2 separate regions of the Homo sapiens genome follow, and region 2 is linked to region 1. The links come from fine-mapping of genetic effects on gene expression. A gene starts in region 1. The other region holds a variant in brackets. All regions are shown on one strand. Distances are between the middles of the regions. Region 1 holds the start of TCF25 (TCF25 ribosome quality control complex subunit). Region 2 overlaps TCF25 (TCF25 ribosome quality control complex subunit).

The links.
Region 2: its variant is fine-mapped to the expression of TCF25 in whole blood (TOPMed, PIP 0.96).

Annotation. Positions count from the first base shown.
Region 1 is chr16:89,864,499-89,879,746 of GRCh38, forward strand. It overlaps TCF25 (TCF25 ribosome quality control complex subunit), which reads left to right and starts at 9,094. Exons shown (of 18, transcript NM_014972.3): 1 at 9,094-9,361. The coding sequence starts at 9,170. It overlaps SPIRE2 (spire type actin nucleation factor 2), which reads left to right. Exons shown (of 15, transcript NM_032451.2): 13 at 3,691-3,718; 14 at 5,069-5,184; 15 at 5,552-6,821. The coding sequence ends at 5,774. LOC112268179 (a long non-coding RNA gene) reads right to left here and starts at 8,990. Exons shown (of 2, transcript XR_002957933.2): 1 at 8,470-8,990; 2 at 5,879-7,423. RefSeq lists enhancers at 7,852-8,808, 8,579-8,738, 15,007-15,248 and silencers at 8,819-8,938, 9,409-9,878.
Region 2 is chr16:89,888,267-89,903,514 of GRCh38, forward strand. TCF25 (TCF25 ribosome quality control complex subunit) reads left to right here. Exons shown (of 18, transcript NM_014972.3): 6 at 3,927-4,009; 7 at 5,462-5,592; 8 at 6,772-6,871; 9 at 7,724-7,817; 10 at 10,291-10,383; 11 at 10,501-10,606; 12 at 12,369-12,528. Among named protein-coding and RNA genes, the nearest start is that of TCF25, 22 kb to the left of the region's middle. The variant G/A (reference allele first, on the strand shown) is at 6,151.

The DNA.
Region 1 (15,248 bases):
GCTCAGCCACGCCTAAAAGGTTTATTCTCTGGCCCTTTACACAAAAAATTTACCTTCCCTTGTTCTAAAGATCTGAAGGGACGGTGCTCAGGGGCAGGAATGAGTAACATCGGTTTCCACCGGCCACAGGCAGAAATGTCATAATTCACAGGGCACTAACTGGAATGCACACAAAGGACTCGCCTCACTAACGTGGAGTAAGTAGCCCAAAGTGATTGTTGCTCTAGGCCTGACTGATACATCATAAAAGCAAGACCTGAAAGGATCAAACTGTTCACAAGTATCTTAACTGATTCTGAGAACAAAGCTCAAGAATAAGAATTTTTTAAACATCAACAAAAAAACAAACCAGTACTCAGCAAGATAAAATGTGTGGCATGCAAAAAACAAGACAAAATTAATTACAATGTATTGTGGGTTTTGTAACACGTGTGTAAGTAGTGTTGATAACAGCAGTTAGCATGAAGGTCAGGGAGAGGGGAAAATTGGAAGTATACTTTTTTTCCTTTTTTTTTTTTTTTTTTTTGAGAAGGAGTCTCGCTCTGGCGCCCAGGCTGGAGTGCAGTGGCACGATCTTGGCTCACTGTAAGCTCCGCCTCCTGAGTTCCCACCATTCTCCTGCCTCAGCTTCCCGAGTAGCTGGGTCTACAGGCACCTGCTACCACTCCCAGCTAATTTTTTGTATTTTTAGTAGAGATGGGGTTTCACCATGTTAGCCAGGATGGTCTCGATCCCCTGACCTCAGGATCTGCCCACCTCTGCCTCCCAAAGTGTTGGGATTACAGGCGTAAGCCACCGCGCCTGGCCAGAAGTATACTATTTTAAGGTTCACTATGGTAAGGTGAATCACTATGATAAGGTATAGTAAGGTATTATACACGCTATACAAATATTACTTAAAGGTAGACTGTGATAAGTTAAAGATGTATACCATAAGTCCTAAAGCAACCACTAAAATAAAACAGTTACAGCTAATAAGCCAACAAAGGAGATAAGATGGGACCATAAACAGTAATTAATCCAAAAAAAGGTAGGAAAAGAAGGAGAACAAACAAATGAGTCAAAAACAAAACAAATAGCAAATGACAGCCTTAAACACAACTGTATCTCGCATCACATTAACTGTAAGTCATCCACACGACCCAAGTAAAAGTTAGAATTTCCCAGACTGAATAAAAAAGTAAGGCTGGGCCGGGCGCGGTGGCTCACACCTTGATCCCAGCACTTTGGGAGGCCAACGCTGGCAGATCACGAGGTCGGGAGATCGAGACCATCCTGGCTAACACGATGAAACCCTGTCTCTACTAAAAATACAAAAAATTAGCTGGGCGTGGTGGCGGGTGCCTGTAGTCCCAGCTACTCGGGAGGCTGAGGCAGGAGAACTGCTTGAACCTGTGAGGTGGAGGGTGCAGTGAGCCGAGATCGCGCCACTGCACTCCAGACTGGGCAACAGAGGGAGACTGTCTCAAAAAAAAAAAAAAAAAAAAAAGGTAAGGCTGGATATGGTGGATATGGTAGCTCATGCCTATAATCCCAGCACTTTGGGAGGCTGAGGTGGGAGGATCACTTGAGCCAAGGAGGTCAAGGCTGCAGTGAGCTATGACGGTGTCACTGCACTCCAGCCTGGGTGACAGAGCAAGACCTGTCTGGGAAAAAAAAATCACCTAATTTTATCTGTAAAATTATGTATATTTCTGTTGATATATGCTTGGAAAAGCCTGGAGGATGGAAACCATTACTAGCAGGGATCACTTCTGAGCATGTGGTGTCTACATTTTAATTCTCTCATGTTTGAATTTTTTTTTTTTATTTTTTTGAGATAGAGTTTCACTCTTGTTGCCCAGTCGGAAGTGCAATGCCGCGATCTCAGCTCACTGCAACCTCTGCCTCCCAGGTTCAAGTGATTCTCCTGCCTCAGCCTCCTGAGTAGCTGGCATTACAGGCATGTGCCACCACACTTGCTAATTTCGTATTTTTAGTAGAGATGGGGTTTCTCCATGTTGGTCAGGTTGATCTCCAACTCCCGACCTCAGGTGATCGCCCACCTTGGCCTCCCAAAGTGCTGGGATTACAGCGGTGAGCCACCACGCCCAGCCTTGAATTTTTTTTTTTTTCTTTTTTCTTTTTTGAGATGGAATCTCACTCTGTCACCCAGGCTGGAGTGCAGTGGCACAATCTCGGCTCACTGCAAGCTCCACCTCCCGGGTTCACGCCATTCTCCTGCCTCAGCCTCCCGAGTAGCTGGAACTACAGGTGCCCGCCACCAGGCCTGGCTAATTTGTTTGCATTTCTAGTAGAGACGGGGTTTCACCATGTTAGCCAGGATGGTCTCGATCTCCTGACCTCGTGATCTGCCCATCTCGGTCTCCCAAAGTGCTGGGATTACAGGCTTGAGCCACCGCGCCCAGCCTTGAATTTTTTATAAGAAGGTATTTATTTTTGAAATCAGATATGGGAATTAAAACAAAATTGAATCACTGTTTAAAACTGAGCATCTCAGTTGAGGCCCCTCTAGCTTCCATGGTGCTTTTATGGTGAGTAGTGTCAGGTACACACCAATGTCTACACGTCTTCTTAGAAGGAATCTTAGATGTCTTTCCAAGACAGTGTGCAAGTTTTTTTTTTGTTTTTTGTTGTTGTTGTTGTTTGCTTTTTGTTTTTTTTGAGACAGAGTCTCTCTCTGTCACCCAGGCTGCGGTGCAGTGCCATGATCTCGGCTCACTGCAACTTCCGCCTCCTGGGTTCAAGCAATTCTCTGCCTCAGCCTCCCGAGTAGCTGGGATTACAGGTGCCCGCCACCATGCCCGGCTAATTTTTTGTATTTTTAGTAGAGACGGGGTTTCACCATCTTGGCCAGGCCGATGTTGAACACCTGACCTCGTGATCCACCTGCCTTGGCCTCCCAAAGTGCTGGGATTACAGGCGTGAGGCATCGCGCCTGGCCGACAGTGTGCAGTTTTTAAAGACCCTTGTAGGTTTTTGTTTTTAAACTTTCCAAAAGTATGTGACCCATCATGGCTTGGTTCAGAAAGACCCATCATGCCTTGGTTCAGAAACAAAAATCTGCTTAAGAGGGACTTTTACCACCATTTTTTTTTTTTTTTGAGACAGAGTTTCGCTCAGTCCCCCAGGCTGGAGTGCAGTGGCGTGATCTCAGCTCACTGCAACCTCCACTTCCCAGGTTCATGCCATTCTCCTATCTCAGCCCCCCAAGTAGCTGTGATTACAGGTGCCTGCTGCCACGCCCAACTCATTTTTGTATTTTTAGTAGAAACGAGGTTTCACCTTGTTGGTCAGGCTTGTCTCAAACCCCTGACCTCAGGTGATCCACTTGCCTTGGCCTCCCAAAGTGCTGGGATTACAGGCGTAAGCTACCACATCTGGCCCACCACCACTATGTTTAAACCTTACTCTATATCCTACCACTTGGCAATAGAAAACTTGGCAGGAGAAAACTCCTGGAGCCATCCTTCCTGAGAGAATGCCAAGGAGCACATATATTTTGGGTGGATACCTAAGTATAAAGAAAAGCAAGATTTTGGAGTAAAATAAAGTACTGAAGTAACCAAGCATCAGGCAGAAGGCAAGGATGGTTTGACCTCGGATGCGTGGAGGCCGGGATGCGACTGTTTCTCAGCTGTTTGTGGGCTTCCTCCCTGCTGATGCTGCATTTCCTCTGTTCCCTTCCAGAGCCGTCTGCACTTCCTGTAGCATAAAGGTGAGGACCATGTGGGATCTCTGGGGTCTGAGCAAGGCAGATGAGGGGCTCCACTGGCTTTGATTGGATGTGTTGGATGATGCTGCCTCACCAGGCACCTCATCCATTTCCTTTCAGGCAGAATCCATTCCTATACTTTCCAAGATAGTGTGCAGTTTTTAAAGACCCTTACAGGTTTTTGTTTTTAAACATTGCACGTTAGTAGCCTCGTGCCAAAAAACCCTTCACTTCCCCTCTAAAAGTCCTACCTTCTTACATTCTATAACTTTTTGGGTGTTTTAGGAGGGGCTTCTTATTGCAGTTGAGGTGTGTGCTTATGTGCAGGTGCACAGAGGTAAAGGGATCCTAACATTTAAAAGTATGTCAGCTGGGCACGGTGGCTCACACCTGTAATCCCAGCATTTTGGGAGGCCAGTGAGGCTGGCGGACCACTTGAGACCAGCCTGGCCAACATGGTGAAACCCCATCTCTACTAAAAATACAAAAAAATTAGCTGGGCATGGTGGCACGCACCTGTAATCCTAGCTACTCAGGAGGCTGAGGCATGAGAATTACTTGAACCCGGGAGGTGGAGGCCACAGTGAGCTATGATTGTGCCACTGCACTACAGCCTGGGTGACAGAGACTCCGTCTCAAAAAGACAAAATACAAATAAAAGTATGTCACCAGCCAGGCGCGGTGGCTCATGCCTGCAGTTCCTGCACTTTGGGAGGCTGAGGTGGGAGGATCTCTTGAGCCCAGCAAATTCAAGGCTGCAGTGAGTATGGCTGTGCCTCTGTACTCCAGCCTGGGCAATAGAGCAAGATCTGTGTCTTAAAAAAAAAAAAAAAAAAAAAAATATATATATATATATATATATGTTACCCCTCAGGCCTCAGTTCAGAAGCAAAACTCTGCTTAAGGAGTACTCTTACTACCACTATTTTTAAATCTTACTCTACATCCTGCCACTTGGCAATGGAAAAACTTCCACCTCATCCATGTTAAATGTTGATTATGTGCAGGGTAAGGTGGCAGGTCCCGTATAGTATAAAAAGGGAAAGTTCTTGCCCTCTAAGGAGCCCCTGTCCAGATGAGCAGGAAACGTGGCAGGTCCCGCATGGTATAAAAAGGGACGGTTCTTGCGCTCTAAGAAGCCCCTGTCCAGATGTGCAGCAAGCAGGAACCCCGTGCCAGTCTTCAGCCAAAAGGCACAGAGGAGACATCGGAGAGCACAGGGACAGAGAATATTCTCCAGGAAGCCCTGGCTGCCACGCAGGTCCCAGACTGGGGAGGGAGGTCCCCTAGCACTGAGTGTACCTGAATGTCTCTGGTGGTGCCTGGTTCATACCTCCTCCCTCTGTGCTGCAGATGAAGATGCCTTCTAAGAAATTTGGACACATCCCTGTCTACACACTGGGCTTTGAGAGTCCTCAGAGGGTATCAGCTGCCAAAACCGCGCCAATCCAGAGAAGAGACATCTTTCAGTGCGTTCTTCGCCTTGCTGCTGATGTCACTGTGGTGGTCGGGCGTGAAGAGGAACTTGGGAGCTGGGGTGGAGGGGGCTGGCTTTGTCTGTTTGCTAGGACACCCCAAGGAAATGGAAATGCAAGGCAGAGACGGATCGTTGTGTAGGGCTCTGGGAGGCTGAGCAGTATGAGATGGAAACTGGACTTGGGTGGTCAGGGAACAGTCTGCTGAGATGAACACTGCTAGCTGTGTTTGTTGCCTGAGGGCCAAGGGGAGGCCTAGGGTGAAAGGCAGCCAGGAGGGGGCTGTGGCATGCACAAGCAGGGAGGGGGGTGTGGCACCCTGGCTGGCTCCTCTCCCTGAGTGCCCTCTCCCACTTCCCAGGTCTCTGCAAGGGCCACAGTGGCAGAGCGTGGAGGAGGCGTTCCCCCACATCTACTCCCACGGCTGTGTCCTGAAGGATGTCTGCAGTGAGTGCACCAGCTTTGTGGCAGACGTGGTGCGTTCCAGCCGCAAGAGCGTGGACGTCCTCAACACTACGCCACGACGCAGTCGCCAGACCCAATCCCTCTACATCCCTAACACCAGGACTCTTGACTTCAAGTGACAGCCCCAGGTGGCCAGGCCTCCAGGAGGCACCAGGCAGGCCCTGTATCAGGCTAGGACGCTCTGAGCTGTGCATGTACATATATACATATATAGATACATTTATAATATATACACACAGTCTATATATTTATATACACTGTTTCCTGGCCCCAGAGCTCATTTGGGTTCAGGCGCACTTCAAAACCCTCCCTGGGGGAGGCTGTTTCTTCTCAGGATTCCTTGCCAGGGAGGAAGGGGAGGGAACAGGGTGGGTTTTCTCACTGAAGAGAGAAAGCAGAAGGTTCTAGATCCTGGCACAGACTGCATCCCATGTTCCCATGCTCTTCTCCGTCCCCAGGAATGCGAACGGCAGTTTCCCTTCCCCAGTGGACGTCTAGGTGGGGACAGGGTATCTTGGCTCCCAGCTGGACCAGAGTGCCCTGCTTGCCTCTGCTCTCCCTTTGTGGGGACTCAGGCAGCAGAGGCATCTGGGAAGTCTCTGAGTAGGCAGGGTCCTCCTGGGAGGCACCCCCACCTGTTTGAAAGGTCTGGCCAGGCGTGGTGGTTCAGGCCTGTAATTCCAGCACTTTGGGAGGCCGAGGAGGGAGGATCACCTGAGGTCAGGAGTTTGAGACCAGCCTGGCCAACATGATGAAATGTTGTCTCTACTGAAAATGCAAAAATTAGCCAGGTATAGTGGCAGGAACCTGTAATCCCAGCTACAGGGGAGGCTGAGGCAGGAGAATCGCTTGAACCCGGGAGGTGTAGGTTGCAGTGAGCCGAGATTGCACCACTGCACTCCAGCCTGGGCGACAGAGCGAGACTCTGTCTCGAAAAAAAAAAAGGTCCGTGCCAAGCTGCTCCCTGCCCTTGCCCTTTCCCTTTCCCTGGGGTCCAAACCACATGTGTCCTGCCTCTCCTGGCCCTACCACATTCTGGTGCTGTCCTCACTCGCCCCTGGCCCAGAGGCTCCTGAAGATGCTGGGCGGTCCTGGCACAGGGAGGAGCAGCTCTGTAAATCTGTGCACATGGCCACTCTTGGCCTAATAAAGGAGGTCTCACAGTCTTCTGTCTGGGATGTGCGCTGAGGATTCACCCAGCATGGCATGTTCTCCCAAGGTTGAAGCTGGGCTTGAGGGGCCACCTGCCTTCCAGGACGAGGAAAGGCCTCCTGGCTTAGAGTCAGGTGCCCACCAGGCAAGGGCTCCAGGCCTGCTCTGTCCACGCAGCCCTGGCTGCCTCTACCAGCTTCGTGGTCCTGGCCACCATGGTCAGGGCTGCATGCGGACGGCACAGACTACTGCCCATCAGCTCCTCTGGCCACACCTGCTGGCCTGGGGGGTACTTTGGTCTCATTTCCCAGATCCGTATTCTCGTTCTCCAGGGAGAGGATCCACAGGGGCAGGAGGTGTGACTGCAGGCTCTAGACAGGCCCTGTGCCGAGTGCTGTCTGCTCACCTGCGCCCGGCTCAGCCTGTTAACGGGGCCCTGCCCTGCTCCTCCGTGACGTTCTGCCGTCATCTTACCTTACAGATGAGGGAACTGAGGCTCAACGAGGTCAAAGAATTTGGCCAAAGATACACAGCTCACCCAGAACTTTGACTCCAGGCTGTAATGCTAGCCGTGGGGCCTGGAGGTCAGAAGGGACAGGACTTGTAACTGATGGGCCTGCGGGAGAAAATACTCCTGTCAGCTGGGGTCCAGGAAATCCAAACACACAAAATTAGAGCCCCCAGTAAAAACAGCCAGCTTCTAGCATGCGTGTAAGCATTTCACGGACTCTCTGGCCTGTATTTTTATTCCTGTTTAAAAATAAGAAAACAGGCACAGAGAGGGTCAGGGAACTCCTCCGGTCACACAGCCAGCAATAAGCTAATGTGTAGTGCTTGGTAAGGACGACGGTTGTTCTGGTTCTACGGGGACTCACACTCCCTATCATGGGGAGACTGGGTTGTAATTCATACAGGAACACTTGGAAATGAAAGCCCACGTTAAAACCCTAAACCACGGCAGGTGCAGTGGCTCACACCTGTAATCCCAGCACTTTTGGAGGGTGAGGTGGGCAGATCACTTGAGGTCAGGAGTTCGAGACCAGCCTGGCCAACATGGTGAAACCCCATCTCTACTGAGTACAAAAATTAGCCGGGCATGGTGGCACATGCCTGTAGTCCCAGCTACTCGGGAGGCTGAGACAGGAGAAGTGCTTGAGCCTGGGAGATGGAGGTTGCAGTGAGCCGAGATTGCGCCACTGCACTCCAGCCTGGGCAACAGAGCAAGACCTCATCTCACAAAATAAAATAAAACCCTAACCCATCCTGGGAGGGGCCAGGCCGGCTCACCAGGGCTGCTGCTTGTGCTCATGAAGCCGCAGTAAGTCGGGCAGGAGGCTGCTGGCACCTGTCTTCTCTATGCCCTCCTGTCCCCATGTCCCCAACCCCAGGCACAGGAAGCTGTGCCCTCCGCCCACTGAACCCAGCACTGTCTCAGCCTCATCTACTTTATTTTTTTCATTTTTTTGAGACAGGGTCTGGCTCTGTCGCCCAGGCTGGAGTGCAGTGGCGCGATCTCGGCTCACTGCAGCCTCAGCCTCCCGAGTAGCTGGGATTACAGGCGTGCGCAGCCACGCCCAGCTAATTTTTGTATTTTTAGTAGAGGGAGTTTCACCGTGTTGCCCAACCTGGTCTCGAATTCCCGACCTCAGGTGATTCGCCCACCTTGGCCTCCCAAAGTGCTGGGATTACAAGCGTGAGCACCGCGCCCGGCCCTTAGATCGTGACAAACGCGGGCGGCCTGTCCTAGAACTGTCAGAACCACTGTCCCTAAAGAGGCCTCGGGCGGGCAGTAAGGGCCGCGTCACTCAATGCTGCTCGAGGGGCGGCGGCTCCAGGGCAGAGGCGGGCATCGACGGCTAGATCACTCGAATGACACCCTGACACGAAAAGGACCAACTAGCAACGTCCGGGACGCAGCTGAAATGCTGCAGGCACGGTGCGGGGACAGGCCCCGGCGGGCAGAACGCGGCTGCGGGTTCCGGGCCACATGGATGGGCAAGGCCGGGCAGGGCCGACTGTCGCCGGCTGCGCGCCCGTTACCCCGAATCGAAGCCCGTCATCCCCGCGGGGCACCTCTCCATGCCCGGTGCGCACGGCGCGCAGACACCCAGCTCTCCAGAGACCTGGCCCGGACCCCCCGGAGCCCGCCCAGACGCCGCCGCTGAAGCGGGAAAGTTCCGGAGAGCCGCGACGCGCAGGCGCCGCAGCCAGGTCCTGCCCCCACCCCTCGCGCCAAGAGTGCGCAGGCGCGCAGCCAGCTCCCCCGCCCCCGACCCCGCGCGAAGAGTGCGCAGGCGCGCCGACAGCCGAGTTTTCTGCGCTTCCTTCTCCCTCTCTCCAGACGTCGTGGTCGTTCGGTCCTATGTCGCGCCGGGCCCTCCGGAGGCTGAGGGGGGAACAGCGCGGCCAGGAGCCCCTCGGGCCCGGCGCCTTGCATTTCGATCTCCGTGATGACGATGACGCGGAAGAAGAAGGGCCCAAGCGGGAGCTTGGTGTCCGGCGTCCCGGGGGCGCAGGGAAGGAGGGCGTCCGAGTCAACAACCGCTTCGAGCTGGTGAGGAGCGCGGCGGCCCGGGTGGGGGTGGGGTGGCCCTTGACGTTGTGGGGCGGGGCGAGCGTCCAGCCGGGTCGGGGAGCGGGGTTGTGATGCCAGGGGTGGGAAGGGTGACGTGGGTCCCAGCCGCAGTGGGGAGGGCGGGGCCGTGCGTCGGGGCCAGGGCGACGCGGGTGGGCGGTGGCGTGGGGTGAAGACGGCGGGCCGCGGAGTTAGACTGGGTTCTAACCCCGGTGAGGTGGGCGGGGCTAAGGGATGGGGCGGGGCCGTGCTGTCGGGGCGGGGCGACCGAATGGGCGGGGTTAAGCGGGGTCCGGGTTGTGGAGGGTGCGGGGCCTTGATGCCAAGGGCGTGGCCAACGTCCGCGGGGCCGGGCCACGACGTGGGCGGGATTAAATGGGCCTGCGGCCACGTGGCTGTCGTGGGGCCGTGACGCTAAAGGGCGTGGCTAAAGACGGGGGGGTGGCGAGGCGATGGCGTGGGCGGGGTTAAATGAGGCCTGGGGCCACCGTGGGGGTGGGGCCACGGCGTAGGGGCAGGAGTCGGGTGGGGCTTCCCTTTCTCGAGTCTAGAGGGGCCTTCTCTCGGTTCCAGGGTTGAGGACTTGCCAGGCCTCTGCGAGCATTCTGCTTTAATCCTCACAACAACTCTGCCTAACCCAGGGCCTTGCTCTTCGCGCATCCCCATCAGCCTAACCCAGCGGATTAGTCTTACTCTTTGCTGCATCTCCGGCAGCTCGTTTCTGGCACAGGGAAGTAACAGTTTGACTGTATGGTTTGCTCATGCGGTCCTGTGACGTTTTCTCCTAAGCCCTGGCCTCCGTCTGTAACTCTGCCTCTGCGGGCTCTGCGATCCTCCCACCTCAGCCTCCTGAGTATCTAGGACTACAGGTGGATGTCACCACGCCCGGCTAATTTTTTTTTTTTTTCTTTTTTGTAGAGAAGAGTTTTCGCCTTGTTGCCCAGGCTGGTCTAGAACTTCTGCGCTCAAACAATCTGTCCACCTCAGCCTCACAAAGTGCTGGGACTACAGGCGTGAGTCACCATGCTTGGTTGACTGCCCTTCTCGCATCAAGTCCACCTTTAGTGGTCCCCAAGACCCCCGTCAAGGTTCAGTAATTTGCTAGATTCACAGCAGTTACTGAAAGCTTTTTGTTTTGAGATGGAATCTTGCTCTGTTGCCCAGGCTGGAGTGCATTGGCACAATCCTAGCTCACTGCAACCTTGAACTCCTGGGCTCAAATAGTCCTCTCACCTTGGCCTCTCAGAGTGTTGGCATTAGAGGCATGAGCCACTGTGCTTGGCCCCGTAAGTCTTTTTAAATTTTTGTCAATGTAATTTGTGAAAAATGATATCACATTATTTTATTTTACACTTCTTTGGTAGTGAAATGCAGCACCTAGCTATGTATTCGTTGACCATTTATATTTCTCTTTGTGACAACCTGTTTATATCTTTGCCTTTTTATAGGGGGTTTGGACAGTCTTTTTGCTCGTGGAAGCTTGCTATCGATTGTCTCTAACGTATTTTCTCGGTTTGTGTTTGTTCTTTAACTTCTTTAATTTCTGCGTGCTGAAAGATACTGGAGCCACTTTTCTCATTGTTACACATCCATCTCTCTAGAGTGTCTTCACATAGATATTCCCTGACGTGAGTTTTTTTTTTTTTTTTTTTTTTTTTTTGAGATGGAGTCTCGCTCTGTCGCCCAGGCTGGAGTGCAGTGGCATGATCTCGGCTCACTGCAAGCTCCGCCTCCTGGGTTCACGCCATTCTCCTGCCTCAGCCTCCCAAGTAGCTGGGAACACAGGCGCCCGCCACCACGCCTGGCTAATTTTTTGTATTTTTAGTAGAGATGGGGTTTCACCATGTTAGCCAGGATGGTCTCGATCTCCTGACCTCGTGATCCGCCTGCCTCGGCCTCCCAAAGTGCTGGGATTACAGGCGTGAGCCACTGCGCCTGGCTTTTTTTTTTTTTTTTTTTTTTTTTTTTGGTTACAGACAGGGTCTCACGGTGTTGCCCAGGCTGGTTGCTGGTCTTGAACTCCTGGGTTCAGGTTATCCTCCTGCCTCAGCCTCCTGAGCAGCTGGGACTACAGCATACCCTACCATGCTCAGCTTGTTCTTTTAATGCTTTTTTTTTCCCATTTAAATATTTAATCTTTTTGGTATTTATATTTGTGTTGGTGGGAATTTGGAAAAAGTGTGGTTCATGAGTTGACAGAGTAAGAGTCTGTAAGGTCAGAAACCACACAAACCCTTGTGGACTTTCTGGAGTGAGTTTGAGTGTCAGTAACACTAACAGCCTCCATGGATGAATGACTGCTTATCGTGCTGTGTTCTTAGGAATTTCAGAGAATTTTATCCAGTGGCACACATCAGTCTTAATTTAAGCATTCCATACTTTTTTGCTCTTAAAACTCATATTTGGAAATAATATAATCAAAATGTTTATTGGCATTCTGTTAAATAGCTCTTAATAAACAGAAGTATGGGAGACAGTAAACAGCCAGTTACGACTAAATGGTTATGAATGTGAATGCATTGGTGAGAGACATGGTGTTTCTCTTTTTAAAAAATTTTATTTATTTAGAGACAAGATCTCTTTATGTTGCCTAGGTTGGTCTTAAACTCCTGGGCTCAAGAGATCCTTCCGCCTTGGCCTCCCAAAGTGCTGGAATTGCAGCTCCCAGTACTTTGGGAGGTGGGCAGATCACCTGAGGTCAGGAGTTCGAGAGCAGCCTGGCCAACATGGTGAAACCCCATCTCTACTAAGAATACAAAAATTGGGCCAGGCGTGGTGGCACATGCCTGTATTCCCAGCACTTTGGGAGGCCGACGTGGGCGGATCATGAGGTCAGGAGATCCAGACCATCCTGGCTAACACGGTGAAACCCCGCCTCTACTAAAGAAGTACAAAAAAATTAGCCGGGTGTGGCGGCGGGAGCCTATAGTCCCAGCTACTCAGGAGGCTGAGGCAGGAGAATGGCGTGAACCCAGGAGGCGGAGCTTGCAGTGAGCTGAGATCGTGCCACTGCACTCCAGCCTGGGCAACAGAGCGAGACTCCATCTAAAAAAAAAAAAAAAAAAAAAAAAATTGGCCAGGCATGGTGGTGGGTGCCTGTAATCCCAGCTACTTGGGAGGCTGAGGCAGGAGAATTGCTTGAACCCAGGAGGTGGAGGTTGCAATGAACTGAGATTGTGCCACCAGGCTCCAGCCCGGGCAATACAGCGAGACTCTGTCTCAAAAAAATAAATAAATAAATAAATAAATAAATCGTAATAATAATTATGGATTTGTCTATTTCTACTTTCAACCCTGTCAGTTTTTGCTGTGTGTGGGTGTGTGTGTGTTTTGGTTTTTTGGAGACAGAGTCTCGCTCTATTGCCCAGGCTGGAGTTCAATGTCACAATTATAACTCACTGTAATCTTGAACTCCTGGGCTCAAACCATCCTCCCACCTCAGCCTCCCAAGTAGGTGGAACTATAAGTGGGTGTCACCACACCTGGCTAATTTTTTCAATTTTTTTTGAAAGCCAGTGTGCTGGGATTATAGATGTGAGCTACCATGCCTGGCCTAGAATCTTTTCTGAACTGATTGGTAATGAAAATAGCAACCTATCAAAATTTGTGGGATGCAACTGAAACGATGATTAGAACTTTATCATCGTAAATTTTAAATTAGAAAAGTGTTTAAAAATCTAGAAATTTACCTGAAACTTCTACCTTAAACTAGAAAAAGAGCAAATTAAACTCAAAATGTGTCGAAGGAAGAAACTAATCAAAGAGGGGAATGCACAGAATAGAGTATGGACACGATGGAGAGAATCGGTGAGACCGAAACTTGGTTCTCTCAAAAGACGAGTTGGCAAAAACTCTAGATTGACTGATGGAGGGAAAAAGGGAAGGTCCAGGTACGTTACCATTTTCAGGGATGGGAGAGGAGTGTTCACAGGTACAGATGGTGCAGATAGTAACGGGCGATAAGGAACTTCTTGCTAATAAATTTTCCAGATTAGACAAATGGGCAAGTTCCTTTAAAGATAAAACTTATCTAAATTGACATGTGAAGAAATAAAAAAATCTGAGCCCTTTTATCTATTAAAGATACTGAATTTTTTAAAGTATAAAACATTCCAGGCTAGGGTTGGTGGCTGACACCTGTAATCCCATCACTTTGGGAGGTCAAGGCAGATCCATCACTTGAGCTCAGGTGTGTGAGACCAGCCTGGGCAATGTGGCAAAACCCCATCTCTACAAACAATACAAAAAAACTGTCCAAGTATAGTGGCACTCACCTGTGGTCACAGCTACTCGGGAGGCTGAGACGGGAGGATGGCTTGAACCCAGGAGGTCGAGGCTGCAGTGAGGTGAGATGACGCCACCGTACTCCAGCCTGGGTGACAAAGTGAGACCCTGTCTCAAAAAAAAAAAAAAGACAACCTCAGGCTGGGTGCGGTGGCTCATGCCGGTAATCCCAGCACTGTGGGAGGCCAAGGCGGGTGGACCACCTGAGGTCAGGAGTTCGAGACCAGCCTGGCCGACATGGTGAAACTCCGTCTCTATTAAAAATCACCATTTTTTTTTTTTTTTTTTTTTTTTAGGAAAAATGGACATTTTCCTCTCCCCCTAAAAAAAGATAAAACTCCTTCCTGGTTATTAACTGAAATGCTGATCGAGCTTTATCCTAAAGAAGATCAGTCGTGGACAAGAACCTTGTGAAATGTTCCCCATTTGAGACCCTAAAACTAATGAAAATCACAGCTTTTGGGTAGGTAATAAGGTGTTTTGTTTTGTTTTTTGAGACGGAGTCTTGCGCTGTCGCCCAGGCTGGAGTGCAGTGGCACCATCTCAGCTCACTGCAAGCTCTGCCTCCTGGATTCACTCCATTGTCCAGCCTCAGCCTCCTGAGTAGCTGGGACTACAGGCGCCCACCACCACGCCCGGCAAGTTTTTTTGTATTTTTAGTAGAGACGGGGTTTCACCGTGTTAGCGAGGATGGTCTTGATCTCCTGACCTCGCCATCTGCCCACCTCTGCCTCCCAAAGTGCTGGGATTACAGGCGTGAGCCACCGCGCCCAGCCAGTAATAAGGTTTGTCTGACGGTGATTGACAGCATTTTAGAGCTGATGCATGGCAGTAGAGATTGCAGCAAATCATGTGTCATCACCAAAACTTCACTGAAGAAGCAAAACTAGGCCTGTCACCCGTGCTGTCTGTGTACACAGATGGGCTTCAGAGCCTGTCACACGTGTTGTCCGTGTACACAGATGGGCTTCGGGGCCTGTCATACGTGCTGTTCGTGTACACAGACGGGCTCCTGGGCCTATCACCCGTGCTGTCCGTGTACACAGATGGGCTTCGGGGCCTGTCACACGTGTTGTCCGTGTGCACAGATGGGCTTCGGGGCCTGTCACACGTGTTGTCCGTGTACACAGACGGGCTTCAGAGCCTGTCACACGTGCTGTTCGTGTACACAGACGGGCTCCTGGGCCTGTCACACGTGCTGTCCGTGTACACAGATGGGCTTCGGAGCCTGTCACACGTGTTGTCCGTGTACACAGATGGGCTTCGGGGCCTGTCACACGTGTTGTCCGTGTACACAGATGGGCTTCGGGGCCTGTCACACGTGTTGTCCGTGTGCACAGATGGGCTTCGGGGCCTGTCACACGTGTTGTCCGTGTGCACAGATGGGCTTCGGGGCCTGTCACACGTGTTGTCCGTGTGCACAGATGGGCTTCGGGGCCTGTCACACGTGTTGTCCGTGTGCACAGATGGGCTTCGGGGCCTGTCACACGTGTTGTCCGTGTGCACAGATGGGCTTCGGGGCCTGTCACACGTGTTGTCCGTGTGCACAGATGGGCTTCGGGGCCTGTCACACGTGTTGTCC
Region 2 (15,248 bases), 24 kb after region 1:
AAAAAAAGTTTTCAAAAGCTGTTAAATTTTAAGATTCTAGTTTTGTCGTGGTGGCTCACGCCTGTAATCCCAGCACTTTGGGAGGCCAAGGCGGGCGGATCACCTGAGTTCACGAGTTCGAGATCAGCCTGACCAACATGGAGAAACCCCGTCTCTACTAAAAATACAAAAAATTAGCCAGGCATGGTCGTGCATGCCTGTAATCCCAGCTACTCAGGAGGCTGAGGCAGGAGAATCGCTTGAAACCGGAGGCAGAGGTTGCGGTGAGCTGAGATCGTGACGTTGCACTCCAGCCTGGGCAACGAGAGCGAAACTCCATCTCAAAAAAAAAAAAAAGATTCTAGTTTTGCTTCTCAGAGCAAAACTAATGTGAAGGTCAGGTTCTGAGATAAGTTTCTTTCTCTCTTTCTTTCTTTTTTTTTTTTTTTGAGGCAGATTCTTGCTCTGTCGCCCAGGCTGGAATGCAGTGGTGTGATCCTGGCTCACTGCAACCTCCGCCTCCTGGGTTCAGGCAATTCTGCCTCAGCCTCCCGAGTAGCTGGGATTGCAGGTGCACGCCACCACGCCCAGCTAATTTTTTTTTTTTTTTTTTTTTTTTTTAGTAGAGACGGGGCTTCACCATGTCGGCCAGGCTGGTCTCGAACTCCTGACCTCAGGTGATCCACTTGCCTTGGCCTCCCAAAGTGCTGGGATTACAGGCGTGAGCCATGGCGCCCGGCCCAGATAAATTTCATCTGTGTCCATTCAGTAGTTCTTAGCAGTTGGGCAGCCCCAGATGAGGATGGCTGGCTGCGATGGGGAGCACAGGGTCTTTCAGCTCCTTAGAGGAGGAAGAGCAGGGGGGGTGTCTGCTTCTGGGACTTTATGTAGGAGGTATATTCCACCTCTGGACTCTCCATCGAAGTGTCCAGAAGGCTTTGTCTTTTTTTTATTTATTTATTTTTATTTTTTTATTTTTTAGAGACAGGGTCTTGCTGGGTTGTCCAGTCTGGTTTTGAACTCGTGGCCTCAAGTGATCCTCCCATCTCAGTCTCCCAAATAGCTGGGACTACCGGCACATGCCACCGCTAATTTATTTTATTTTATTTTTTATAGAAACAAGGTCTTACTTTGTTGCCCAGGGTGATGTCAAACTCCTGGCTTCAAGCGATTCTCCTCCCTCTACCTCCTAAAGTGCTAGGATTACAGGCATGAGCCACCACGCCCAGCCAGACACATCCTGTTTTATTGGACCATGGAGAGTATTGCTGGTCTATAACATGCCCTGGGTTTGCACGTCTGAGTTCTTTTTTTTTTTTTTCGAGACAGAATTTTGCTCTTGTTGCCCAGGCTGGAGTGCAATGGCTCAATCTTGGCTCACCACAACCTCCGCCTCCCGGGTTCAAGTGATTCTCCTGCCTCAGCCTCCTGAGTAGCTGGGATTACAGGCATGTGCCACCATGTCCAGCTAATTTTGTGTTTTTAGTAGAGATGGGGTTTCTCCATGTTGGTCAGGCTCGTCTCGAACTCCCAACCTCAGGTGATCCACCCGCCTCAGCCTCCCGAAGTGCTGGGATTACAGGTGTGAGCCACCGTGCCTGGTCTGCACGTCTGAGTTCTAAGCATTGTTTTCTTTTTTTGAAATGGAGTCTCGCTCTGTCACCTAGGCTCTGGAGCTCAGTGGTGCGATCTCAGCTCACTGCAACCTCCGCCTCCTGGGTTCAAACGATTCTCCTGCCTCAGCTTCCCAAGTAGCTGGGATTACAGGCGAGTGCCACCATGCTCGGCAAATTTTTGTATTTTTGGTAGAGACGGGGTTTCACCATGTTGGCCAGGCTGGTCTCGATCTCCTGACCTCAAGTGATCCGCCAGTCTCGGCCTCCCAAAGTGCTGGGATTACAGCCCTGAGCCACTGCGCCCGGCCTCCCAAAGTGCTGGGATTACAGGCGTGAGCCACCACACCCAGCCTAAGTGTTGTTTCTGCACCATGGTATACCCAGGTCATTTCCTCACCCCAATGGTAGCATGTGTCCAGATGTTGGCTACAGTCCCCGGTGTCTGCAGGCATTTCTGTGAAACTGCCCAAGAATGAGTATATATCCTGCATGCTGCCAGTGCCTTCAGTAGAGTTACGTGGCTCACACTGAGTGTCTGCCCAGGTCCTTCACCTTCTTACTCGTAGTCGACGGTAGTGGTTTGGAAACCTGCCGTCGTGTGTGGGCAGAAGTGTTGGGGTTTTGATTGTGGGTAGATCAAGGATGTTTTCATATGCTGTTGTTCACGCCTTCCCTGGATTTCTAACAGGTTTTGCTTTATATTTTACTTTACATTTTTGGTGTTGATGGGTTTCTTCGGGAATATTAATTAAAAATAGACTTTAAAATGTCACTTTGTCATCTGCATTTCTCTGAGCTGAGGGTTCCACCTCGTCCCACCCTTTGTTTGCATCTGCTTGGTCTGTCTTGGTCATTTCTTTATATTTTTGCATGGTTTTATTTCTGCAAATTATAATTATTAATAGTAATTAGTATTATAACTGTTAATACTGATTACTCGTAGTAATTAGTTGACAATAATTGCCTTTATTATTTTTATAGTATTATTAAACTTTTTTGTTTATTTATTTCTTTAAAAATTTAAGTCCTACCAAAAGACTTACATGGAGAAGCCACAGTTTCCTTTTTATTCATTCCTTGTCCTGCTCCTCCAAGACAAAGACCTGGCCTGTTTCCATTTCTCCTTCTGGTGGTTCTCTCAGAAGCTCAGAATAACAGGCACTGCTTTCTCTTGGGTCCTTGACTTCCTACTACGACAGCCCGGTCAGCTCATCGCCCCCGCACTTCAGCACACTCCTCCCATTGCTCAGGGCGCCTGCCAGCCTTCAGAGCTCCTCCAGGCTCCTGTCCCCTGCCCCCTCCTGGCATCTGCCCAGGCTGCCTCGTTGGGTCTGTTCTGGAGGCTTCCTTACTTGTTTTGTGGGATAGCTCACCGCAGGTCAGGCCATCCCTGGGATTCTGTACATCTGGCCCAGGAGAGTGCTGAAGGGCTGACTCTCCTAGGCCTGGGCGTGTGCTACAGGCAGGAGAAGCAGGCTGGGGCCACCTTCATGTCAGGAGGGCCCACCACACTGGCCTCCACTCTGCGGTGGCTGAACTGTGGGGAGCCCGGGGCCAGGGCAGGGATGGCCCCGTGGGAAGGGAGCTGCACCGTGCTGATGGTGACCGTGGGCATGGCTGCTGCTGTCTGTGCTGCCGCGGCTGCCACGCCCCACCTGTCTGGTGCCTGTGTGCTCAGGCAGAGTGCCCTGACCTCTGTTATTTGGGGGTCTCTGCCACAGGGGTCAGGCCCACTCTAAGCACTGGTCAGCTGGTATCTGAGCTGGGCAGGTGGGGCAGCATGGAAAAGGCATGGAGCTGCTGTTACCTCAGAGATGGTTGGTTTCTTAAGTTGAGTGATGGGCATGTGGATATTAGTACGTTGTTCTCTTTCTTTTCGTTTTCTTTTTTTATTTTCCTCTTGAGACAGGGCCTTGCTCTGTCGTCCAGGCTGGAGTGCTGGGATCACAGGTGCAGGCCATCACGCCAGGCTAATTTTTAAAACCCTTTGTAGAAATGGGGTTTTGCTGTCTTGCCCAGGCCAGTCTCGAACTCCTGGGTTCAAGAAATTCTCCCATCTTGGCCTCTCAAAGTGCTGGGATTACAGGTGTGAGCCCCCGTGCCCAGCCAGAATTGTTTCTTTCTCTCTATGGGGCCCTCCCTGCTGCACCCGTCCCACAGCAGTTGCTGACGCTTGTTTGCATCCTGTCCTTAATGCGTCCCCACCCTGCCCCACATGCCTTCTCTGCCCCTCAGTTTTGCTTCCACAGCCCGTGCAGGGATCAGGCAGCCAAGCCTTGGTCCCCACACGCCACAGGAAGTAAAGCTGTACCTGTGTCCCGTTCTCCCCAGGCCACGGCAGAGACAACGTGTGTACCCCAAGTGCACATGGCTGACCACCCCTAAAAGCACCTGGCCCCGCTACAGCAAACCAGGTGAGGGTCTGCAGATGCTGCTGGGGATGGAGGGTTGGGGGGCGTTGTCTGTGCACTGGCCCCGGTACAGCAAACCAGGTGAGGGTCTGCAGAGGCTGCTGGGGGTGGAGGGCGGCGGGGGGGTGTGTTCTGTGCACTGGCCTGCGCTGGGCACCAGGGGCGTCAGTGCCTCTTGAGCCGAGACTCTTTGCTCCAGGAGCGCTCCAGGAGTGTGCAGTGTGTGACTGTTTGTTGCCACACTGAGGGCCTGAGTGCTGGAGGCCTGGCCCAGTACCTCAACACGGAGCCTCCCAGGCACAGTCTTTGTGTGACTGTCTTTTAACGCAGGTTCTTCCTACCATTCTGCCATCGACCTTTCCCTTATGGAAGCAATCGAGTTCATTTTAAACTGCAATATTTTGTATATTATTGCAAACTAATAAGTGATTTTAAGATGAATTGCAACAGTGAAGACAGGCATGGAGTGTTGGGTGCTTGGTTGTGTGGTGTGGGGAAGTGTCAGGAGGCCTTCCACACTGGCCTCCACTCTGCAGTGGCTGAACTGTGGGGGCCCTCAGGGGCCAGGGCAAGGACAGCTTGTGGGAAGGGAGCTGTGTGGTGCCCTTGGTGATCGGCATGGCTGCTGCTGTCAGCGCTGCCATGGCTCCCACGGCCGCTTCTCCTGCGCCTGTGTCTGTGGGGGTGCCGGAGATTGCCTGCATACATTCTGTAAGGACACATCTAGGAGCGAGGCCTGTGCTGTCAGAAGGTGAACCCCGCTGCTCACGGCCCCTTCCCTTCCTGGCAGGAACCCCTGCTCACTGCAGACAGGGGTTCCATGGCCATGTATTCCTGCAGGACTGGGGCCTTGGGCAGGGCCATCAAGAAGGTATCACTACAGGGGACCTAGTCCATGGAGGTCCTGGGAGGCTGAGCTTTCCAGGTTTATCAGAAGAAACTGGGTCCCATACACCCAGTCAGACAAGAGGAGCCAAGTGAGAGGGTGGTCACACGTTACAAAGCTCTGTGGCTTCAGAGGCCTGGCGCTGTGGCCACCTGTGCCACCGCACTCCAACCCTGTCCTTCCACAGCCACCCCGGACATTCTCCTCAATCAGACGTGGTCTGGGGACAGTGCTCGGCGTGGTCAGATCTGGCGATCTGTGGACTGTGTGTGTCCTTGTCCCTGACATTCCCTCCAGGCCAGTGGGGCTAGAGCTGTATCCGAGTTCTGGAGGCAAACACGTCTTGATAGGAAACTAAAGCAGACGGGATGCCGTCTCCTGGTGTAGACCAGACGGCGGGTGTTTTGGGAAGGTGTCCGGAGCTGGTGACACCCATGAGTACACACTCAGGTCAAGTTTGTCGATATCGCAGAGGCCTCATCCAGAACACCACGAAGGTGAGGGCTGTGCTCGGAGCTGCCCACGTCCCTGCTCCCGGCACACCCTCCCTGAGCACTCTCCCCTCCCAGGTCTGTCCATGCGGCTGCTGGAATCAAAAAAAGGCCTCTCCTTCTTTGCGTTTGAGCACAGTGAGGAGTACCAGCAGGCTCAGCACAAGTTCCTGGTGGCCGTGGAGTCTATGGAGCCGAACAACATCGTGGTGCGTGGTCCCTGCAGCCCCTGACAGGAGCAGGGGCCATGTAGCCACCACTGCCCTGGGCCGCCTGCTTCCCTGGTGGCTGGGGGAGGCATGCTGCCTCCTGCCCTTCCCAACAGGAAGGGTGCCAGTCTCTGCAGGGCGGTCTGGCCCTGTGACCAGAAGGAGATGTGTTCGGAGGCTCTAGGCCAAGCGAGCTCCATCCATACTCAGAGGAGAGGCTGGAGCGCTGCTCTCTCAGCCGTTCCTGGGGACCGTCGCAGTAGTGCCGTGTGATGCAGGCCCAGGACTCTGGGGCTTCTCACTGCTGCCCTTGCCTCCTGCGGCTCAGTGCAGGCGAGCAGCTCAGATTCCCGGCCCCCGTGCAGCCCCCGGACGGCCCCCACACGGCCCCGGACGGCCCCCGCGCAGCCCCAGACAGCCCCGGACCTGGACAGTCCCCGTACAGCCCCGGTGCAACCCTGGACAGCCCTCATGCAGCCCCTGGACAGCTCCCCTTGCAGCCCCGGACGGCCCCCGCGCAGCCCCAGACAGCCCCCGGGCGGCCCTCACGCAGCCGCC[G/A]GACAGCTCCCCTTGCAACCCCGGACAGCCTCCGCAGAGCTCCCCGTCATCTCCCTGTGGGAAAAGCAGGCTGCTGCTTTCCATTCCTCTTTCTTGGGGCTTAGTGGGGAGTTAGGTGGCCCCTGGCCTGGGCATGTCAGGTTCTGAGTTCTTGCTTTAAGTCATATAATTGGTTCAGCTTAGCAATAATAACTAGCCTATTTTGAGTTGGGGGGACGTTGTGAGTGTCGACCCGGTAATTCCCCCGTTTTTGTTTTTGTTTTTGGAGTCGGAATCTCACTCTGTCGCCTAAGCTAGAGTGCATTGGCGCAGTCTCGGCCCGGGTTCAAGCGATTCGCCTGCCTCAGCCTTCCGAGTAACTGGAATTACAGGCACACGCCACCACACCCGGCTAATTTTTGTATTTTTATTAGAGACCAGGTTTTGCCACGTTGGCCAGGCTGGTCTTGAACTCCTGATATCAAGTGATCCTCCTGCCTCAGCCTCCCAAAGTGGTGGGATTACAGGCGTGAGCCACTGCGCCCAGCCTCCGCTGGTTTTAAATGTCTGAAAAAAAGGCATGCCTGGGAGCTGGGGCCTTGCTGAGTGCCTTTCCTCCAGGGCTGTCCTCCCTTCTGGTAGGTTCTGCTCCAGACGAGCCCTTACCACGTTGACTCACTCCTGCAGCTCAGCGATGCCTGCCGCTTTCAAGAGGATCAGGAGATGGCTCGAGACCTCGTAGGTAAGGCAGAGCCCCCACCCCATTCCCCTCAGCTGTGGGAGCACCTCAAGCTATCAAGACAGATGCGATGGTGTAAGATGACAGGGGTTGCCAGGATATCCATGACAGCTTTATTGAGATACAACCTACGTAGCACAAAACTTACCCATTTAAAGTTTTTGTTTGTTGGTGTTTAATATATGCCACAGCCTCCCGAGTAGCTGGGACTACAGGCGCCCGCCACCAGACCTGGCTAATTTTTTGTATTTTTAGTAGAGATGGGGTTTCACCGTGTTGGCCAGGATGGTCTCGATCTCCTGACCTTGTGATCCACCCACCTCAGCCTCCCAAAGTGCTGGGATTACAGGCATGAGCCACCACGCCCCGCCCTCTGGCTTTTATTTACAATGAAGTTTTCAAGGTTCATCCTCACTGTAGCGTCGATCAGAACGTCGTTCGTTTTTATGGCTTAGTAATACTCCACTGTGTGGACGGACCACATGTTGTGTATCCATCATTAGTTGACGGCCGTGTGGGCTGTTGTAAATAATAGTGCTTACGTCAGCATGCACACGCAGTCTTAGGTGGACACATCTGTGCTGCACACATGGACGCCTGGTTCTGTCAGGACGTGGCAGCAGTTGTGCCTCATGGTGTTGAAAGTGTTACCATGTCAAGCTCACAAGTTCTGTGGTTGAAATAAATGCAGCGTGGCATCCAGGGTGCCCAGGGGCATGTCTGCCCTCTCAGTGTCCAGGACTCTAGTTTCGTGACCTTCCGTCCAGACCTTTCCTTGTTGTCCATTATCAGAGGAGGGGCCGTGGTTGCTGTGTGTGGCCATGACACCCTCCCCTGGCGTCCCTGTGCCCACAGAGAGAGCGCTGTACAGCATGGAATGTGCGTTCCACCCCCTGTTCAGTCTCACCAGTGGGGCCTGCCGGCTGGATTACCGCAGACCCGAGAACAGGTGAGTGCAGCTGCCCTGGAGGTGACGCAGCTCCCCTTCCCTTCTCCTGCGAGTGAGGCTGGGGGAGGTGCAGTGGGCACCTCATGGCTGCCCTCCAGGGTGGACCAGGGCCCACAGGTCCAGAGTGACCCACCTTCCTCTCTCTGGGCTTAAGGATAGAGGGATGGGATTGTCTCAGCCCAGGTTTACCTTTGTCTGTGGACATGCCTGATGCTACTGTGGAGGTCAGAGTGGGAGGTCTGCTGAGCCCAGGAGTTCAAGTCCAGCCTGGGCACCATAGTGAGACCCCCATCTCTTAAAAAAATAAAAATAAAAATAAATGTTTGTGTTAGAAGTGAGCCTGGCTGGGCACAGTGGTTCACGCCTGTAATCCCAGCACTTTGGGAGGCCGAGGTGGGAGGGTTGCTTGAGCCCAGGTGTCAAGACCAGTCTGAGCACCGTGGCAACATGCAGTCTCAAAACAGCATTTTTTTTTTTTTTTTTTTTTTGAGACGGAGTCTCACTCTGTCACCCAGGCCGGAGTGCAGGGGCGCGATCTCGGCTCACTGCAAGCTCCACCTCCCGGGTTCAAGCCATTCTCCTGCCTCAGGCTCCCGAGTAGCTGGGCCTACAGGCACGTGCCACAACGCCTGGCTAATTTTTTGTATTTTCTAGTAGAGACGAGGTTTCACTGTGTTGGCCAGGATGGTCTCCATCTCCTGACCTTGCGATCCACCCGCCTCGGCCTTCCAAAATGCTGGGATTACAGGCGTGAGCCACCGCGCCCGGCCACTACAGAACATTTTAAAAACTAGCTGCGCCTGGTGGCGCGTGCCTGTGGTCCCAGCTACTTGGGAGGTTGAGGCGAGAGTATCACTCAAGTGAGCCCAGGAGGTCGAGGCTGCAGTGAGCTGAGATGGTACCAGTGCACTCCAGCCTGGGCAGCAGAGTGAGACCTTGTCTCTCAAAAAAAAAAAAAGAAGAAGAAGAAGAAGTGAGCCTGAGAAACCAGATCTCCACAGTGGGCTCTGCAATTGCATTTCCTTCTATGTTTGGCTGAGAAAACCCATCCCTGGCAAGTTTAGAAGCTTTGGAAGGCTTTGCAGGTTTGACCTTAAATCAGTGAGGAGCTCAGAGTCAGCCTGACCCTCGCTCCCCTGTGCTGAGCGACCGCATGTGGAGGTCTCTCTTCTTTCAGATACTTCTGCCCCTAAAGCCATCCCTCTGGCATCAGGCCTCGCTGGTCAGACCTAGACTGGCTTCCGCCAGGCCTTCCCGCAGCCTGTCCTGTGGGCCCTTTGTGGAGCAGACCAGCTTCTGTCCGCTGTCCTGCCTCTCCTGTGTGCAGTGCCCTGTTTCTCTGGCCGCCCTGGGTTGTCTGCAGTGTGGGATCCGCTCCTACCCTCTCAGCCCTCCTGGCAAGCCAAGGTCCGCTGACCCGTTCTGCACAGATTGTCTGCACTGTGTGCTGGGTCTGAATTTCCTCCACTGGTTTTCTTTATGTTAGTTTTGTCTCTTCCAATGAAATTCTTAGTTCTTTGAAGTAGATTATAAAATATTAATATTTCCCGACGCGAAAGAGACAGTGGGCTGTTGATGGAAGTAGCAGCCCACCAGCATCCGAAAGTCACAGGGCTCCATGTATCCAGCCTGAGTGCTGTTAGCCACTGTTGAGATTGGAGGATAAATTAAGATCGTAATTGTAACAAGAGATTTTAACTCTCTTCCTGTAAATGATAAATAATAAACAAAAAAACAAGATAAAGATTTCAGCGGGGCGTGGTGGCTCACGCTTGTAATCTCAGCACTTTGGGAGACCGAGGCAGGTGGATCACAAGATCAGGAGATCGAGACCACGGTGAAACCCCGTCTCTACTAAAAATACAAAAAATCAGCTGGGTGTGGTGGCGGGTGCCTGTAGTCTCAGCTACTTGGAGAGGCTGAGGCAGGAGAATGGCATGAACCCAGGAGGCGGAGCTTGCAATGAGCCGAGCCGAGATAGCGCCACTGCACTCCAGCCTGGGTGACAGAGCGAGACTCCGTCTCAAAAAAAAAAAAAAGATTTCAAAGAAGTTTGATTTTCAGTATGCAAATTCGTGTATAACTCTGTAAAGGACAAGGAGAGCGCACACCTCCTCTCCAGACATGGATCTCTGTGTGCTGGGCACGTAGAAAATGCCAGCAGAACCCAGAGAGCAGAATGGGGGTGGAGCGGGTGCTGACCGGGGCGCTAAGCAGTGTGTGGGGTGGAGCGGGTGCTGACTGGGGCGCTGAGCAGTGTGTGGGGTGGAGCGGGTGTTGACTGGGGCGCTGAGCAGTGTGTGGGGTGGAGCGGGTGTTGACTGGGGCGCTGAGCAGTGTGTGGGGTGGAATGGGTGGTACTGGCCAGGACGCTGAGCAGAGGGCGGGGTGGAGTGGGTGCTGGCCGGGGCGCTGAGCAGAGAGCATTCTCCTTTGTGTCGTTGTAATTCATGTGGAACTATTTTGGATCTAGGAGCTTCTACCTGGCCCTCTACAAGCAGATGAGCTTCCTGGAGAAGCGAGGCTGCCCGCGCACGGCGCTGGAGTACTGCAAGCTCATCCTGAGGTGAGTGTCTGCTCAGGGCCAAGCCCGTCCACGCTCCCTGTCCTGGCTGCAGGCCCACTCTCAGCCTGACGATGCCCCTGTTCCCCTTTGCTCTGCTCTCTGTGCTGCCTCCGGAAGTCTCGAGCCGGATGAGGACCCCCTCTGCATGCTGCTGCTCATCGACCACCTGGCCTTGCGGGCCCGGAACTACGAGTACCTGATCCGCCTCTTCCAGGAGTGGGAGGTGGGTGCGAGCCTGGTGAGGCCCCGTGGAGGGACGGACACCTGCTTCTCCTTCTGTTTTCTTGGTTCAGTATCTGTGCGCTCAGGGGACGTTTGGGGATGAAACGATAATCGTCTGAGGGCAGAACCACGTCCTCCTGCCTTGTTTGTCTCCCTTGCCGCCTCTACGGAGTGGAATGTGGTTTTCCTAGGGACAGTACAGCAGCCTTATGTCAGAATCCTCATACGTGTGTACACATGCTCAAACGTGTGTACACATGCACACGTGTGCCTGCAAGGACTGTGATGCTGGTAATGATGAAAAACCGACAACTCCCGAGCTCCTCATGGGCAGTTCAGGAAGATGCAGCCGGGAGGTAGAAGGAGGGTTGGTTGCGTGGGGCTGACACAGGGACCCCCAGCACGTCTGTCCTGTTCCATGGGAAGAGTGTGAGTACAGCAGGAGAGACTTGAGCTCTGTCCCCAGTAACTCTAACACAGACACGTGTTGGAATGATAATTTCGGTGTATTGGGTTAGATATAACGTATTAATCTCACCTGTTTTGTCTTTAATGCAGCTCCCAGAAAATTTAAATTGGGCCGGGCATGGTGGCTCACGCCTGTAATCCCAGCACTTTGGGAGGCCGAGGCGGGCGGATCACCTGAGGTCAGGAGTTTGATACCAGCCTCAACATGGAGAAACCCTGTCTCTACTAAAAATACAAAATTAGCTGGGCGTGGTGGTGCATGCCTGTAATCCCAGCTACTCGGGAGGCTGAGGCAGGAGAATCGCTTGAACCTGGGAGGTGGAGGTTGCGGTGAGCCGAGATCGCGCCATTGCACTCCAGTCTGGGCAACCAGAGTGAAACTCCGTCTCAAAAAAAAAAAAAGAAAATTTAAATTGACACCTGGGCTCCCATTATGTTCCTATGGGGCAGCACTTATCTGGAAGGACACGGGCTTTGTAACGCTAACCTCCAGCAGGGCCTGGGGCTGGGGAGAAGGCGACAGCTCTTGACTTTCTCTGCTTCTGTGTTGAATTTTTTTCATAGCACATGTTCATGGATAATGAAAGTGGGTAAATTATTTTGAATTTTTAAGCATTTGGCATAGTTGGCCAGGAAGTCTCACCCCCAGGAATGTGGTTTATAGAAATTCCTGGAGCTCACAAAAATGTAGGTGCAGGGAAACCTCAGGGAGTCCCCCAAAATGGGGCTGCAGAAGAATGTTGATGATGGTGTTTAAGGTCACAAAACTGTGAGTCTGTGATCCCATTTTGATAGAAAAAAATGCAGTGAGTCACATGTCTACAATATGTGACATAGGCTGAGAAAGGCAAGAGAAACTGGCACGGTGGTAGACTGCTCGGAAACTCGCGTGGCGGGCTGCTCTCGGAAACTCGCGCGGCAGTGGGCTGCTCTCACAGACTCGCGCGGGGGTGGGCTGCTCTCGTCTGTAAATTTTCCACATTGAGAGCACCAACTGCTCAGCTTCAGAGAGGAGCCTGGGCGGCAGGTGGGACCCTCACTCCCCACGGTGTCCTCGCTCCGGCTCAGTCTACTTCTCAGGCCCTCCCACGTCCTCTGTATCTTCTGCATGCGGAAAGCCCCCCAGGTGGACGTTTTAAGTTATCTTTATGCTGAGTTAGGAAGAGGCCCTTGCGTTGCCTGCAGAATATACCTGCTCGGGGTAGGGCTCACTGGTGATGTCAGAGCGTCTGCAAACTCACATATTTTGTCTTTATGACTTAAGGCTCCACGCTCTGTTTCTTCGTCCCTCGTAGGCTCATCGGAACCTGTCCCAGCTCCCTAATTTTGCCTTCTCTGTTCCACTGGCGTATTTCCTGCTGAGCCAGCAGACAGACCTCCCTGAGTGTGAGCAGAGCTCTGCCAGGCAGAAGGCCTCTCTCCTGATACAGCAGGCGCTCACCATGTTCCCTGGAGGTGAGTGAGCGCTGTGTCTCGCCTGGGGTAGGGGTGTGTCCTGTCAGCCGTGGGGGCTGCTCTTCCTGGTGGTGGAGGCCAGGTCCCAGTCCTTCCCCACACTTGTAGAAACATGCATTCTCTGGTAGGGCCTGCAAACCTGCCCTACCAAACCTGAAAGAGGGTCGGCTCATCTCGGAACCCGCTGCGTGCCAAGCCAGGCACGAGGAGGTGGCAGGCATCCCGACCCCCGTGGGGCCTGTGTTCTAGAGTGCAGAGACAGAACTGGCTGGGAGGTGCGGGGCATTGGATTGTACCAGTGCTGGGGAGGAGAGCAAAGCAGGGGAAGGTCTCGGCAGCGCCGAGGTGTGGCCGAGAGGGTTGTGCTCTGCACCATGCTGGGATGCAGAATGGAGGCCTGTGCCGCCCAGATGGACTCAGCCTGCACAGCCGTGACCCCTGACTGCATCTGGGTAGCTTCGATCCACGCACATGTGGCGGGCACAGTGAGGCTGCCACCTGGTCAGACCTCGGGGCTGACCCTGCCTGACAGCATGTGTGAAATCCCTCTTTAAGATGGGCCTCCTCCGAGGAGCTGTGAGGGGTGAGGGTGAAATCCCTCCTTAAGACGAGCCTCCTCTGAGGGGCTGTGAGGGGTGAGGGTGAAATCCCTCCTTAAGACGGGCCTCCGGCCGGGCGCGGTGGCTCACGCCTGTAATCCTAGCACTTTGGGAGGCCGAGGTGGGCGGATCACGAGGTCAGGAGATCGAGACCATCCTGACTAACACGGTGAAACCACGTCTCTACTAAAAATACAAAAAATTAGCCGGGCGTGTTGGCGGGCACCTGTAGTCCCAGCTACTTGGGAGGCTGAGGCAGGAGAATGGCATGAACCCAGGAGGCAGAGCTTGCAGTGAGCCGAGATCGCGCCACTGCACTCCAGCCTGGGCAACATAGTGAGACTCCGTCTCAAAAAAAAAGAAAAAAAAAAAAAAGACGGGCCTCCTCCGAGGGGCTGTGAGGGGTGAGGGTGAAATCCCTCCTTAAGACGGGCCTCCTCCGAGGGGCTGTGAGGGGTGAGGGTGAAATCCCTCCTTAAGATGGGCCTCCTCCGAGGGGCTGTGAGGGGTGAGGGTGAAATCCCTCCTTAAGACGGGCCTCCGGCCGGGCGCGGTGGCTCACGCCTGTAATCCTAGCACTTTGGGAGGCCGAGGTGGGCGGATCACGAGGTCAGGAGATCGAGACCATCCTGACTAACACGGTGAAACCACGTCTCTACTAAAAATACAAAAAATTAGCCGGGCGTGTTGGCGGGCACCTGTAGTCCCAGCTACTTGGGAGGCTGAGGCAGGAGAATGGCATGAACCCAGGAGGCAGAGCTTGCAGTGAGCCGAGATCGCGCCACTGCACTCCAGCCTGGGCAACATAGTGAGACTCCGTCTCAAAAAAAAAGAAAAAAAAAAAAAAGACGGGCCTCCTCCGAGGGGCTGTGAGGGGTGAGGGTGAAATCCCTCCTTAAGACGGGCCTCCTCCGAGGGGCTGTGAGGGGTGAGGGTGAAATCCCTCCTTAAGATGGGCCTCCTCCGAGGGGCTGTGAGGGGTGAGGGTGAAATCCCTCCTTAAGACGGGCCTCCGGCCGGGCGCGGTGGCTCACGCCTGTAATCCTAGCACTTTGGGAGGCCGAGGTGGGCGGATCACGAGGTCAGGAGATCGAGACCATCCTGACTAACACGGTGAAACCACGTCTCTACTAAAAATACAAAAAATTAGCCGGGCGTGTTGGCCGGCACCTGTAGTCCCAGCTACTTGGGAGGCTGAGGCAGGAGAATGGCATGAACCCAGGAGGCAGAGCTTGCAGTGAGCCGAGATCGCGCCACTGCACTCCAGCCTGGGCAACATAGCGAGACTCCGTCTCAAAAAAAAAGAAAAAAAAAAAAAGACGGGCCTCCTCCGAGGGGCTGTGAGGGGTGAGGGTGAAATCCCTCCTTAAGACGGGCCTCCTCCGAGGGGCGGTGAGGGGTGAGGGTTATTTGCGTGCAGCTAGTATACACACATTACGTGACCACTCATCGCCTATTAGGATGTCCTGGAAGCAGCATCCCTTTCTCGGTTCTGTGGGTTTCCAGGGCTCTGTCTGGGCCCCGAGGAGGCCCACGGCGTGGGGTTGGGCAGCTTCTAGCACAGGCAGAAACGTGCCCCCCAGAGGGGCCTGGCCAGGCCTCAGTCTGCTCGCTGACCCCAAAAGTTTCGTCCCCTGTGTCTAAGAAGCACCTTTGTCCTCCTCTGGGGCTGCATGCAGCTGGCCATATGCTCCACCAGTGCAGCCGTGTCTGGAAACGCGGCTGGGAGGCCCTGTCCTTTGTGGCAGAGCTGTGCTGCTGTGTCACAGGCTGTAGCGTCAGCACCTCCCTTGAAGGCAGGTGGGCTGCCAAGAAGCCGCTGCCACTTACCCCAGAACACTGGAGATCACTGCAGGCTCTGCCCTCGGGGCCCGTTCCCCTACATGGCGGCCTCTGCCCTCAACCTGCAGTGCTGGCTCTTCCACTGGGCACAGGTGGCCTCCGCTCCCACCAGCCTGCCATGGGGTCCAGTCTTTGTGATTAAAACATCCAACCGGCCGGGCACGGTGGCTCACGCCTGTAATCCCAGCACTTTGGGAGGCCGAGGCAGGAGGATCGCTTGAGCATAGGAGTTCGAGACCAGCCTGGTCAACACGGTGAAACCCTTTCTCTACCAAAAAT